4 linked regions of the Homo sapiens genome follow. The protein of the gene in region 3 purifies or fractionates together with the protein of the main gene of each other region. This does not show direct contact. Each region holds a gene or a part of one and is shown on either strand. Other genes may lie near its edges.

The links. Proteins that work in one complex are often made in the same cells at the same time.
Region 1: the proteins of TCN2 (region 3) and DNAJC3 purify together in Homo sapiens (affinity purification with mass spectrometry; one large-scale study listed by BioGRID and IntAct). This does not show direct contact.
Region 2: the proteins of TCN2 (region 3) and CLTCL1 purify together in Homo sapiens (affinity purification with mass spectrometry; one large-scale study listed by BioGRID and IntAct). This does not show direct contact.
Region 4: the proteins of TCN2 (region 3) and INTS1 purify together in Homo sapiens (affinity purification with mass spectrometry; one large-scale study listed by BioGRID and IntAct). This does not show direct contact.

What each region holds. Positions count from the first base shown.
Region 1 is NC_000013.11:95,680,026-95,683,650, reverse strand, and holds part of DNAJC3 (dnaJ homolog subfamily C member 3 precursor), read right to left. Parts: intron 1-3,625. UniProt on the Homo sapiens protein: Involved in the unfolded protein response (UPR) during endoplasmic reticulum (ER) stress.
Region 2 is NC_000022.11:19,218,708-19,222,332, reverse strand, and holds part of CLTCL1 (clathrin heavy chain 2), read left to right. Parts: intron 1-239; coding exon 240-382; intron 383-721; coding exon 722-956; intron 957-2,325; coding exon 2,326-2,448; intron 2,449-3,625. UniProt on the Homo sapiens protein: Clathrin is the major protein of the polyhedral coat of coated pits and vesicles. Two different adapter protein complexes link the clathrin lattice either to the plasma membrane or to the trans-Golgi network.
Region 3 is NC_000022.11:30,610,056-30,613,680, reverse strand, and holds part of TCN2 (transcobalamin-2 isoform 1 precursor), read right to left. Parts: intron 2,811-3,625; coding exon 2,618-2,810; intron 809-2,617; coding exon 639-808; intron 1-638. UniProt on the Homo sapiens protein: Primary vitamin B12-binding and transport protein. Delivers cobalamin to cells.
Region 4 is NC_000007.14:1,480,378-1,484,002, reverse strand, and holds part of INTS1 (integrator complex subunit 1), read left to right. Parts: intron 1-149; coding exon 150-261; coding exon of another isoform or gene 262-302; intron 303-1,295; coding exon 1,296-1,457; intron 1,458-2,514; coding exon 2,515-2,661; intron 2,662-3,069; coding exon 3,070-3,168; intron 3,169-3,561; coding exon 3,562-3,625. UniProt on the Homo sapiens protein: Component of the integrator complex, a multiprotein complex that terminates RNA polymerase II (Pol II) transcription in the promoter-proximal region of genes.

The DNA of each region.
Region 1 (3,625 bases), on a different chromosome or scaffold from region 3:
CCAGCCGGAACTGGGTAATTTATAAAGAAAAGAGGTTTAATTGGCTGACGGTTCTGTAGGTTGTACATGAAGCATGGCTGGGGAGGCCTCAGGAAATTTACAATCATGGCAAAAGGTAAAGGAGAAGTAGGCACATCTTCACATGGCCAGAGCCGGAGGAAGACAGAGAGGGGGGAGATACTGCACACTTTTAAACAACCAGATCTTGTGAGAATTCTATCACAATAACAGCTCTGGGGGATGGTGCTAAACCATTAGAAACCACCCCCATGATCCAATCACTTCCCACCAGGCCCCAGATCCAACACTGGGGATTACAGCTGAACATGAGATTTGGGTGGGGCACAGATCTAAATCATACCACCCCACCATTACACAATATACCCATGTAACCTGCACATGTATATCTTGAATCTAAAATAAAATAAAGTTAAACAAAAAAAAAGATTCTGCCCTCAAATGCTGGCTCCTTTGTGAAACCTTCCCTCACACTGTATTGTTTTGAGAGAGGGAAAAAAAGCTCCTTCAATCTTCCTATATTTTGCATTTCCACACTCAGAAGTACATGACTTCACTTTGCAATATCACTCTCTCTATATATTGCTTTTCACAATTTGCCTGCTTCTCAAAGTCCCAACTCCACAAAACTTATCAAAAGCAAGTTTGAGAGGAGGAGCTGTCTTTTCTTCTTTGTATCACCTAATTCAGTATCCCGCACATAGTGGGTATGCAATATTTGTTGAATGAATTTAACTATTTGCCTTTTTACTTAAACGTATTATAATTCATCAGAATAAAATCTAAAATACATAACAATTATCAAGTCAAACATATGATCAATGATTCATAAAGACACATCTGAAAAATCAAATTATTTGCGAATTATTGGCTGTTTTTGCAATCCACTCTCTTTTGAGCCACAGGTAATTTTTATTCCTTTGCCACATGGTCTGTAAACATTATTTTCAGAGAGGTAAGACAACCAAACATCATGCCATTTCCTAATCAGCATTAGACAATAGGTTTCTCCTTAGACAAGCAGTGATCATAAGTCAGCAAAATAAGCAGCAAGGGCAGGGAAAAAGGTAGAGTAGCCAACTATGTCTTTCACTGAAATTAGTATTAGAATATCTTATATTTTGGAGAGCAGAAAATAAGGATTTTTTTAAACTTAAAGGTGGGGGGTTAAAGGTATGACGTGAGTTACAATCAAGACTGGAAGAACCAGACTAAAGGAGGCAAGAACTCATAGTCAAAGATACTAAAGTTCAAGCAAAGGCGGTGGCAGACCCAGACCAGAGAGCAATCCCAGAGAGAGAGATGGTTATTCAGGTTGGAGCACTTAGAATATGAGGAATGAGGAAAGCCCTAAGTTTCTTCTCTAAAAAAGAACAGAAGGCTAAGCCAAGACTCTAGCAAGGTGGGGTAGAGTCTAAAAGAAGTCTTGTAGCAGAAACACAGAAGACAGTGGAATCTAGCCAAAGAAAGATAGTACAGGAAGTTCAGCATCTACTATTATCTGAATGTTCTCTCCAAAATTCAGGTTGAAATTTTTTTTATAAATTACTCAGTCTGTGGTATTTTGTTATAGCAGCACAAAGATACAACTGTAGGAGCAACATTTTCAGAAGGTGAGAGGAAATGGAATCCAGGGTGTAAGTACACAGATTAGATTTATCTGGGAATAGAGACATTTAATGTATTTCAATATGAGAAAAAGTAGCAGAATAGGTACAAATGTAGATAAGCTAGTGAATTTTGAGGTAGAAAGAAGAACTTGCCTTGTGATGGCTTTCATTTTCTCAGTAAAGACAAGGTCTAAAAGAATGAGGTAGGGGAGAGAGGAAAGGAGAGTTTAAATTAGAGGCTTCAGAAAGGAGGAAAATGTTTGAAATATTGATTTTCAAGAATAGACATAGTAAAGAATTGTGGGAGTGTTAGCAGTATTTAATGTGCATTTGCGACTGAGATTGTTTCTTTAAAATGAGACTAATCAGGGCCAGGTGCATTGGCTCGTGCCTGTAATCTCAACACTTTGGGAGGCCAAGGGATGAGGATTGCTTGAGCCCAGGAGTTCAAGACCAGCCTGGGCAACATAGAAGACCCTGTCCCTACAAAAAATTTTAAAAACTTAGTAGGGGATGCAGTGGTGCATACCTGTGGTCCCAGCTATTCAGGAGGCTGAGATGGGAGGACTGCTTGAGCCCAGGAGGTCAAGCCTACATTGAGCTAGGATCATGCCACTGCACTCCAGCCTGGGTGACAGGGCAAGACCTTGTCTCGAAAAAAAATTGAAAATAAAAATAAAGATAAATGAGACTAATCAGCAAAGTTGTCTCCATTTTCCTCCGTCCGTGTTTACCTATAAGGTATAAAAACAGTTGGCCAAGTTGAATTTAACCAGTGTTGGGTTTTGGCAGGTGAGTAAAACAGAAGATTACAGGGGCCAGAAAATAAATGGGCATTTGCAGTACACTAACTACAATAATGGACCACTCAGTCTAAAGCGGGAAAGGAGAAAAAGAGGACGTGAATGCTTCACAAATGCATGTCTTAAACCCTAAGTGGTCTGTAAACTCAAAAGCAAAAGCCATGAGTTCTATGCTACGTATATATACCTCACCAAAGAGCAATATAGTTAGTAAAAGCCTTTGCTGACTGATTAAATGAGTCTTCTCCATATTCCAGAACTCCAAATGATACAAACTCATCAGATTTAATTTTTTTAAGTAGCTTTCTAAAGATATGGAAAGAAAAATAAATCTATGGTTGAAATGTTTGCGTTCTGAAGAGCAGGTGAATGGGTTCCCATGATACTTCCATATAAACAAAGATTAACTGCAGGACACTAATCAAAAGAGACCACAGCAGTAGAAATTAAACTTAACAACAATTAATTAACTTCATATGGGAAAATAAAACCTAATTACTACAGTGCATCCCCTCCCAGAACAACTTCCCCTACCTCACAGAATGAAAACCACTGCATTTCCAGGCAGTTTCTCAGCAAATACTAACTATGTCAAGAGAACTGGAACTTTGATACTACTGCTAACTACAGCCTATCTTATTAAAGAATTTAAAATAATTCTAGAAAATATGTGACCACCTTTTATGATACTTAATTTATTTAAATTACTTAAAGTCACTCATTTTTGCTACTTTATTCTTTCCCTATTTAGATAATGTCAAGAAAATCCTAGAAAAGACAAAACATACCTTTAATAGGTTAGGTTCAAATAAAACTTATCATGGTTCAAATAAAACTTATCACAATATTTTATACGTATAGATTTTCAACTATATATTTTCAACTATTCTTTTCCCCATGGCCAAAATATATGGTTTAATCAGCTCAATGAAATAAAGAAAAATTGGGTCCAGATAGCATGTTAAGGAAGAAAAAGAGATAAAACTATGATAAGAGAAAAAAGGTTTCGTTCCCAGGCTGTGTTGCTACTCAAGTCACCAAGAGGACAAACCATTAGCAAAGAAATGAAATAACTTCCTTATCTGTAACATGAGAATACTAAAGCAGATACTACTAAAGTTTTCTTTCTATTCCAAAAATTCGATCTCATCTAGTGCTTTAGACTTCACTCTTTCAAACGCCTTTGAGAAGGGA
Region 2 (3,625 bases), about 11 Mb from region 3:
GACACTAGTCCCATTACATTAGGGCCCCACCCTTGACATTGATTACCTTCTTAAACACCCTCTTTCCAAGTAGAATCCCACTAGGGGTTAGGACATCAGCAGGTGAATTTTGGTGGGACACAGCGCAGTGCTAAACAGGAGCCCTTTCAGGGTTTTGCCCAAACTGTCCACGTCGTAGGAGGCTTCTAACAATAACTTGTGTTTGCAACACTGAAGTTACTTGACCTTGACTACCCTAGGTCAACCCTAGCCGGACCCCAGCTGTGATTGGAGGGCTGCTTGATGTGGATTGTTCTGAGGAAGTGATTAAACACTTAATCATGGCAGTGAGAGGACAGTTCTCTACTGATGAGTTGGTGGCTGAAGTAGAAAAAAGAAATAGGTAAGGTGTCCTTACTTGGTGTTTTCTCTTACCCCTGGATTCTAGTGTCTGTTGTTGTTTCTGTCTAATTCTCCAGGACTGTCTCTATAGCTGGTCGTTCATGTACACATCTTAGATGTAGCAATGAGTTACTTGCTATTGGTACTGTGAAGACCTTGGGGGAAAACCTAACAGTAGAAATCAGTTTGGAAACCAGGTCCATCTTGGTCCCTAGAGCAACCTGAAGTCAATGGACTCTGAGATTTTTTGTTTCAGGAAACATCTGTCAGAGCCCTGGAGTTGCCCTCAAGACTTCCAGTGGTAGCCTTGAGACTTTACAGCACCTTCCTTCTTTCAAAGGCTCAAGCTGCTGCTTCCCTGGCTGGAGTCCCAGATTCAGGAAGGCTGTGAGGAGCCTGCCACTCACAATGCACTGGCTAAAATCTACATCGACAGCAACAACAGCCCCGAGTGCTTCCTGAGAGAGAATGCCTACTATGACAGCAGCGTGGTGGGCCGCTACTGTGAGAAGCGAGACCCCCATCTGGCCTGTGTTGCCTATGAGCGGGGGCAGTGTGACCTTGAGCTCATCAAGGTGGGTAGCAGATGTGCTGAGCTGCCCATGTAACCCTGGGCTCCCAGGGAAGCTTTCAAAGGTGTGCCTGTGGGGAGCTGATCAGGGCTTTCTGTGCACCTGGAGATGGCAGGTCATGAGATTATTTCCTTGTGATTCTCACAGCTTTTGGGAACTTGCTCATGCAATTTGTATGCATTGTACCTGTAGACCAGTTGGTCCTGAACCTGACTTATCATCCCTCTGCTTACAGTCCTTACTATTGCCTGGCAATTTGAGGGCAGAATTGAACTCCTTGGCCTGACTCGTGAGCTCCTCTGTGGACTGCCACCTTTCCCAACTCCCGAACTTGATCAGCCATCCATCTTGCCACCCCACCTGGAGAGGCCTGCAATTCCCTGGGTGCCTCATGTCCCGAGTACCCTTGTACTTCATGCCCCCTTTTTGGGGTAACCCTCTACACAAGCCCTTCCCCATCACCTGACCAATGAGCTCTTGCTGGCCTCTCCTTGAGACATCTGCCCAGGTCTTTTGCCTGCATCTGCCCAGGCTTGGATCCACATATAATTACATGTTTAGGTTGAATTGTATGAACTGTTCCTACCTAATCATTTGATCTAAAAATCCAGACATGAATAGGGCACCTGTGAGGTTGGTGCCACACCAGCCTGCTTGGGCTTTTCCTGTGATACACAGGCGGACTGCGCTGCATCCGCAAGCACGTGTGCACGCCGCTCAGCCTTGTGCCGGGCATCTGGCACTCAACAGATCTGATCCTCACCAGGATTTAGCAAGTGCTGCACACGCTAGAACATTCCAGTGGACTGTTGGTGTTTTGGAGATCTGTTATAACATTCAGAAAAAGGTCTCCAGATCTACCAGTGAAAGCACAGTTTACAGTTTTTAGATCTTGAAACATTGCAGTGTTTGTGCTGTTTTATACCAGTTCTAGGCTGTTCTGATAACATTTTACAGATGGTTTAAAGCTAGCTACATATGAGTACTTAAATTTAACTAAATTAAAAATTACCAGTTTAGTTCCTGTCACGCACCACATTTCAAGGGCTCAGTAGCCTCCCATGGCTAGTGGCTGTATCAGACAGAATGGGAGACAGAGCATGTCCCTGAATGCAGGAAGTCCTACTGGCCAGATATGTGGCACATCCCTGGGAGTTGTTGTAAACTTGGAAAGGGCATTTTGAGGTAGTTTGAGTCCATCGTTAACCCTGTAGGATGCTGCTCATCCCATGTCAAAGCATAGCGTCTTGCCTGGGCCCTGACTGTCCACCAAACCAGTATCAGGCACACAGGGAACGAATTGGGGTGTGTCCTCCCAAGCAGCTTCCGCTGGTTGGCTGCTGTGTCACACACATGAGTGTGCTCATTTCAGGTGTGCAATGAGAATTCTCTGTTCAAAAGCGAGGCCCGCTACCTGGTATGCAGAAAGGATCCGGAGCTCTGGGCTCACGTCCTTGAGGAGACCAACCCATCCAGGAGACAGCTAATTGACCAGGTGAGGCACAGAGATGGGTATGTCTGCACACCTGCATTTTGCCGTCCGATCATCATTGTGGCTCAAGTGACTGGTTTCATTTTTAATTTAAAACATCTTGGCTGAGGGCAGTGGCTCACGCCTGTAATGCCAGCAATTTGGGAGGCGGAGGTGGGTGGATCACTTGAGGTCTCAGGAATTCAAGACCAGCCTGGCCAACGTGGTGAAACCCCATCTCCACTAAAAATACAAAAATTAGCCGCACATGGTGGCACACGCCTGTAATCCCAGCTACTTGGGAGGCTGAGGCAGGAGAATTGCTTGAACCCAGGGGGTGGAGGTTGCAGTGAGCCGACATCGTGCCACTGCACTCCAGCCTGGGCGACAGACAGAGACTCCATCTCAAAAAAATAAATAAATAGGCCAGGCATGGTGGCTCACGCCTGTAATCCTAGCACTTTGGGAGGCCGAGGCGGGTGGATGACTTGAGGTCAGGAGTTCAAGTCCAGCCTGGCCAACATAGTGAAACCCCATCTCTACTAAAAATACGAAAACACACTGTGTGGCGCATGCTTGTAATCCCAGCTACTCAGGAGGCTGAAGCAGGAGAATCGCTTGAACCCAGGAGGTGGAGGTTGCAGAAAGCCGAGACTGCACGCCACTGCACTCCAGCCTGGGCAACTGGGTGAGACTCTGTCTCAAAAAAATTAAATAAATAAATAAATAAATAAATAAATAAATAAATAAAACATCTTAGTCCTTACGAACCTTCTCCCCTGCAGAAATAGCTTGCCTAAAAATAGCTTGATTCCCCAGGGTAAGCTGACTTGGAACTGTTAACTGGCCAAGGGCATAGAGTTGGCCCTTGGATCCAAAGCAGGGATATGCAGCCCAGGAAGAGAGTACCTGGTGTCATGCCTGCATGCTGGGCCCAGCTCAGCCCTCGTGGACAGAGGTGAAGTAGCTTTCAAGGTTGTCTCAGCTGACTTCCCTTTGTTGAGGTGCTCTTTATGCCCCTGTGACTATCCAGCACCTCCTTGGAGACTGGGCAGAGTGCTGGGGCCAGGGGTCATTATTGGGTATGGCCTGGCAGGTGGGAGTCTGCCTCGGCCTCTGGGAGGGCTTCCCACAGCCCTGTGGAAGAGCCTCCTCTCCAGTTATAGCCTCACAGACATTTGCAGATAGTGCCTCTGCTGCC
Region 3 (3,625 bases):
AGAGACAGACTATGGCGTAAGTCATAAGCAGGCTGTCCAGTTGTCCCGAAGGTGGATAATCAAGTCAATCTTGGTGGCTAGCCAATACAAGGCTTGTCAGTGGGCCTAACGCAGTGGCTCATGCCTGTAATCCCAGCACTTTCGGAGGCTAAGGCAAGCGGATCACCTGAGGTCAGGAGTTCGAGACCAGCCTGACCAACATGGAGAAACCCCACGTCTACTAAAAATACAAAATTAGCTGGGTGTGGTGGCGCATGCCTGTAATCCCAGCTACTCAGGAGGCTGAGGCAGGAGAATTGCTTGAACCCAGGAGGCAGAGATTGCGGTGAGCTGAGATTGCGCCATTGTACTCCAGCCTGGGCAGCAAGAGCAAACCTCCAACTCAAAACAAACAAACAAACAAAAAACAAAAAACCACGAAACACACCTGTCAATAGTATGTGTGCAGCGCGGGAAAAGCTGGGTCAAGGATGGCTATGGGGACAGGTTCGAGCCTCTACGTAGGCAGTGAGATGGGCAGAATGGATGGTGGGAAAGACGCCTGGGGAGAAAACCCAAAGTTCTGATTCTCATTGGAGAATATCATCTGATGAGCCCTCCCAGCTGCTCCCCACCCCCAGCGGATGGTGTCTGCTCACCAATGGCTCTCTTCTCATCCTCCAGGAACCATTTGAGCTGTGAGACCAGCCTGTCCCCCTTGTGGCCCCTGACAAACTCACAGTTGGCTCTGAGAGCGAGCAGGTAGAGGGCCAGCTGGCCCATGGAAGGCTTGCCCTGGCAGTCACCGTCATCCTCGCTGAAGGCAGACCTAGGACAAGGCCAGTTAATGCCTTTGTGAGAAACTGCCACCCCGTAAGCCTGCTTACAGCACCCACCCCACCCGCATCACAAAGCGGGAAAAAATCTTAACAGTGGGAAACTTTGATAAAAGCTCCAAAAGGAGGTGTGTTGGCTATGTTGTTGTGAGGTGTATGCCACAAATATTTAATAAAGATGAACAGTTAGATTCAAGAATAAACTCCAAGGGCTCCTGTGTCCAGATCATCTGTGCCTGCCCCACTATTTTGTCCATACTTCACCCATATGCCCCCTCCTTTTTTATTTTTTTATTTTATTTATTTATTTTCTTTGAGACAGAGTTTCGCTCTTGTTGCCCAGGCTGGAGTGCAGTGGCATGTTCTCAGCTCACTGCAACCTCCGCCTCCCGAGTTCAAGCGATTCTTCTGCCTCGGCCTCCCAAGTAGCTGGGATTACAGTTGCCCACCACCACCCTTGGCTAATTTTTTGTATTTTCAGTAGAGACAGGGTTTCACTATGTTGGCCAGACTGGTTTCGAACTCCTAACCTCATGTGATCTACCTACCTTGGCCTCCCAAAGTGCTGGGATTACAGGCGTGAGCCACCACACCCAGCCATATTTTTATTTTTTTTTTTTACTGAGATAGGGTCTCTCTGTCTCCCAGGCTGGAGTGCAGTGGTGCCACCATGGCTCACTGTAGCCTCGATTTCTCAGCCTCAAAAGATCCTCCCACCTTTGCCTCCGGAGAAGTGGGGACCACAGGCATGAGTCACTACACCTGGCTCATTTTTTTTCTTTTTCTTTTTTTTAAGAGATGTGGTCTCACTATGTTGCCTAGGCTGGTCTCAAACTCCTGAGCTCAAGCAATCTTCCTGCCTCAGCCTCCCAAAATGTTGGGATTACAGGTATGAGCCACTATGCCTAGTCTTCTTTTCTCTCCACCCCTGCATCCACTTCTCAAGAGGGAGTCTGAGAAAGAGGCACTCCATGGCTGATTCTTCGCCTCTCATTCAAACCCCAAAACAGGCCTCTCTGTGATGCCTCTTGAAAAGGGAGCACAAAGATGCTGCTTTTGGATTGGTGCAGTGGCTCATGCCTATAATCCCAACACTTTGGGAAGCCAAGACAGGCGGATCACCTGAGGTCAGGAGTTCAAGACCAGCCTGGCCAACATGGTGAAACCCTATCTCTACCAAAAATACAAAAATCAGCTGGGCATGGTGGCACACGCCTGTAATCCCAGCTATTCAGGTGGCTGAGGCACGAGAATCACTTGAACCCGGGAATTGGAGGTTGGGGCAAGCCAAGATTGTGCCACTGCACTCTAGCCTGGGCAACAGAGTGAGAGGAAAGAAAAGAAAAGATGCTGCTTCTGGGCTCAGTATGAAAGAATGCGGTCATGGATTACTGATGTCTGCCTCATGCATGGGAGGGGAGCATACAGAGTCAGATGCTGCTTCTAAGCTCAATGTAGAAGACTGCAGTCATCGATTAGTGATATCTGCCTCAGGCACACTAAGGGAGCATAGAGTCAGATGCTGCTCCTGGGCTCATCATCAAAGAGTATAGTCACGGATTAGTTATGTCTGCCTCAGACACATGATGGACAGTAGTAGCAAAAGGAGCCTTGCATTAGCATCTCTGATCTAATCCAACCAACCCCTTCATTCTATAGATGGACAAAGGTCCTCCATTCTATAGATGGAGAAAATTTGCCTAAGGTCTGCCCACAAAGTGGTGACAGGCCCAAACTAGTACCCAAGTTTCCCATCTCTTAGTATGTGGAGCAAGACATGGAAAAAGAGAGTGTGGCAATACCCTAGGAGGCACTGCTGGTAACCAAGCTTGAGGCTGTGCAGGTAGAGGTCTTCCTTGGTCCCAGCCTGCAGACTGGAGAGGCGTAGGCCCACATAGATGCTGGGGTTCAAGTGCTCCAGGGAAAGCCGGTCCATCCAAGGTAAGAGGTGCTGGCCCAACTTCTCTACCAGATGGCTGTCCATCTCTGGTATTTCTTAGAAAAGAAAATGGTACAAATGAGGTCACAGGGCCAGGCCACCAGCAAAGAAGTGCTTTGACGTTACCAGGGCCTTCTCCAGAGAATACATGTCCTCACCCCCACCTCCACCCAGCACACACCAACTTGCAGGGGGAAATGCAGCCATACTGAAAGGCAGTGGGAGGAGAAAAGAGGGGAAGCGTGTATCTCTAAAGAGCAGTTGGAGTGAGCCAGCAAGAGAGGTGGTGGGCTGAAGATAGAGGATGCTACTGCCAGGCAACCACTCTGCCCATCAGCAGTGACAGTGAGACTGGTGTGCCCGGGCACCTTGCCCAATCTCACTTGGTCCTCATGCCAGTCCTGTGATGTAGATACTGTCATCATTGCTTTGCACAGAAGAGGAAACAGAAGTTCAAAGTCGTGTCATGTCTTACACAAGGCTGCAGAGCCAAGGATGGACCTAACTGCAAAGCCCCCGCTCTTTGGTGCCCTGCTGAATGTGTGTGCTACCCGTTTACAAAAACATCAGCCCACATGCAGAACGTGTTACACATCAAATTTCCAAACAACGCAAACTTCCAGCTGGTGAATTGAGGCTGCCTGGTGAACTTCCTCCATGCAGATCTCAAAATAACGCCTTTCCTGCCATCTCTGTTTAAATGAAGAGGACCTGAGATTGTGAGATGAGCTCTTAGAAAACAGTCACAGCTTGCAGCCGTTTACCTGTTGCTGTGGGATTTATTCGAAGCTGTGCAACGAAAATACTCAAACACTCTGGAAGCGGAAGCCTTAGGGATAGTTCCAAGGGACTTGAGCTCAGCACAGGGTAG
Region 4 (3,625 bases), on a different chromosome or scaffold from region 3:
GTGAGGGCGAGGAGGTCTACGGCCGGGTGAGGGCGAGGAGGTCTACGGCTGGGTGAGGCTGCACGGCACGCTCGGTGCCAGCTGGGTACCCTCGGCGCTGGCTCAGGGTCCCTGAACCTTACGGCCTGACTCCACCTCTTTTCCCACAGTCGGAGTCTCAGGACCAGGTCTTCCTACGCTGGAGCAGCGGGGAGACAGCCACCATGCACATCCTCGTGGTCCATGCCATGGTGATCCTGCTGACGCTGGGCCCGCCTCGAGGTGAGCCGCCACAGGCCCCGGGAGGGGCAGCTTCGTGCCAGGTGGGCCACAGCCCTGACCACACCCAGCGGCTTCCGCATCCTTGCCTTGCTTCTGGGCGGGAAGCCCCCCAGCCCTTCAACCCTGTGTCCTGGCTTCTCTCCTAAAGAGGAGGCTGCAGTCCGTCCCGCGTGTCTCTGAGCACTTGGTGGACGTGTGGGAGATCCCCACGTGGTGGGACCTCCCAGCCTGTAGAGCCCTGAGCTGGAGGGCCTGGTACAGCCTGGGGTCAGAGTCCTCACTGCCCCAGCCTAACCGTGTAGGCCTGCGGTGCCTGGGAGGCGGCAAACTCGGGATTTCACCGTGTGGAGGTGCGACATGAGGCTGCCAGGCAAGTGGGTCCTCTCCCCGGGGCCCAGGCGAGTGACCCTGAGGACGCTCTGGCCAGCGCAGTGTCTGGAACCCAGCGCCTACCCAGCCGTGCCCTCTGCGGCCGCAGCCTTCCCCTTTACTCCTGGCTGACACCATGAACTGCTCCCACGTTCACCCCGTTGTGTCTGTCAGTGGGGGAAGGGGGCGGAACCCTCATGCTGGGGTTCGGGTGGACGTGGGTGGGTGGTGACCCCTGTTGGGAGGCAGACACAGTCACAGGCGTCGCCCTTGGGAAGGGCAGCCGGAGAAGCTGGCCCTGTGTGGGCCTGGGCCTGTGGGGTTTCCCAGTGGCTTTGCGGAGCCAGAGAGCTGGATGGGACCTGGTCCAGCCAAGCAAAGCCCCGAGGGCAGGGGCTGGATGGGGACACGCACATGTCCCCTTGGCCACGACAAAATGGCAGTGATGCTGCTTGCCTTCCTGCAGCATCTGTGAGGATCAAATGCGTGCACCTACGCAAAGCATCCGCACATAGCAAGTGCTCACCTAGCACAGGAGCCCCGTGCTCCTCCCAAGTCTCAGTTTCCTTCTCGGGAGAGGAGGTGCCTCTAGCCTTGGCACCAGCGGTGCTTGGGGCTGGGCCCCGGTGGGTCTGAAGGCTGCTCACCCGTTGTCCTTCCTGAAGCCGACGACAGCGAGTTCCAGGCGCTGCTGGACATCTGGTTTCCGGAGGAGAAGCCACTGCCCACCGCCTTCCTGGTGGACACATCGGAGGAGGCGCTGCTGCTTCCTGACTGGCTGAAGCTGCGCATGATCCGTTCTGAGGTGCTCCGCCTGGTGGACGCCGGTACGGTCCAGGCTGGGCTTGGGCAGGGGCTGCTGACTCAGGGGTCCCGGGCCCCTTGCCTGCTCCTTGTGGGCCTGGGCAGCCTCCGGCTGTGGCAGAGGAGAAGACTGGCCGGGTAGCCTCAGGGGATCCTGCAGACCATATGTCCTGGCCACAGCAGGCTGTGCTGGACCCTGGGAGGAGACCTAGGGCAGCCTGTGCTGGCCCCGTCCGAGAGGGTCTTACTGTCAGGCTCAGGGGTCTAGAGTGAGAAACAGGTCCTCGATGGAAAAAAGAGAAAGTGGTCTGGGGTTGGAGAGGAGGAGGAGAAGTGGTGGGGCCTCTGGGTGGGTCCCTGAAGGATTTGGGGGTTGGAGCTGCAGCCGGGGACCCCAGCAAGGACTGAGCAAGGGGCCTGGGCCCACGTAGGTCAGTAGGGCTGGTGCCTGCTCACAGTGAGGAGACACTGGGGGCAGCTTGGTGAGTGAGTGGGGCTGGCTCTGGAAACCCATGACTGCCAAGGGGTCTAGGCTGTTGTGTGCCCCCGGAAGCCACCGATGGCTTCGGGGCAAGAGCGCCCTGAGCACTGAGAGAAGATAGTCACAGCAGCCTGCGTGCAGCTTCGGAAGTGTACTGCGCCGTGCCACCATAGGCCCTCTGGAGCGCCCACCCACCCCTGGGGATGGGGCCCACACAGCTGCCATCCAGGGTGCAAGGTGGTCCCGACACGCTGCCCCCTTGTGCGGCCCCAGGTCTCGGGTGGGGTCACCGAGCCCACGTGGCCCAGGGTCTCAGGTGGGGCTGCCGAGTGTGCACTGCCCCAGGTCTCGGGTGGGGCTGCCGAGTGTGCACTGCCCCAGGTCTTGGGTGGGGTCACCGAGCCCACGTGGCCCAGGGTCTCAGGTGGGGCTGCCGAGTGTGCACTGCCCCAGGTCTTGGGTGGGGTCACCGAGCCCACGTGGCCCAGGGTCTCAGGTGGGTGGGGTCACTGCACACAGGCAGCCCCAGGTCTCGGGTGGGGTCCCGAGTGCGCATTGCCCGGGTTTTGGGTGGCGTTACGGAGCGCGTGCACCCTCAGCCCTGCAGGACCTGGAGCCGCAGCAGCTGCTGCTGTTCGTGCAGTCGTTTGGCATCCCCGTGTCCAGCATGAGCAAACTCCTCCAGTTCCTGGACCAGGCAGTGGCCCACGACCCCCAGACTCTGGAGCAGAACATCATGGACAAGAGTAAGATGCCAGGGACCTGCGGAGTGGGTTCACACACGCTGACCGAGCCCCAGCCCGGCCAGGCTTTTGGGGCCTGGGTGCGAGCGGGTGGGTGATCCGAGGTCGGGTGGGTGTGGGTGGCACTCGAGGGCAGGCTTAGACCTGTGGGTTGGTGAGGCTGGCACAGTCAGGAGGGAGCCGAGGCCTGGGCCTGCCCCAACCCTGGGGCCAGGCACCCCCTAGGGCCGTGTTTTGAGCTTGGAGGGAGCTGTTGGGGCCTCAGTGCTGACTGAGCTCACCCAGCTTCTGAAGTCCTTGGGAAGTGCTGGTGACGGTGGGGGCATCTCCAACTCTGGTTTCTGTGGAGAGGGAAGGACCTGCTCCCTGGCCCCTGGCCGCGCCCAGGTGTGACCCTGCTACGGTTTGCAGATTACATGGCCCACCTGGTGGAGGTCCAGCATGAGCGCGGCGCCTCCGGAGGCCAGACTTTCCACTCCTTGCTCACAGCCTCCCTGCCGCCCCGCCGAGGTACTGGGGAGGGGTGGGGCCAGCACAGAGACCCAGCCTGGGGAGGGGTGGGGCCAACACAGAGACCCAGCCTGGGGAGGGGGACGGGGCCTGCACAGCCACACAGGGCAGTGCACACTTGCTGATGCCACCTGAGAGGGGCCCCCACAGAAACTCTCAGCCTGTCTTTGGGCAGCATTTGCCTCTGGCCAGCATGCACGTTCCTGTTCAGAGTCTTGAGATCCCTGTGGACCTGAGCGAGACCTGGGGTCCTTGGGGAACACAGAGCCCAGGTCTGAGCTCTTCCTCCTGGGTGACAGTCCCCGGGCAGGACTCGCCATGGCTTGTACAGTTCCCACCGCTGGAAGCAGGTCAGAAAGTGTCCAGCCACTGACAGTTCTCCTGTCTCTGCAGACAGCACAGAGGCACCCAAACCAAAGAGCAGCCCAGAGCAGCCCATAGGCCAGGGCCGGATTCG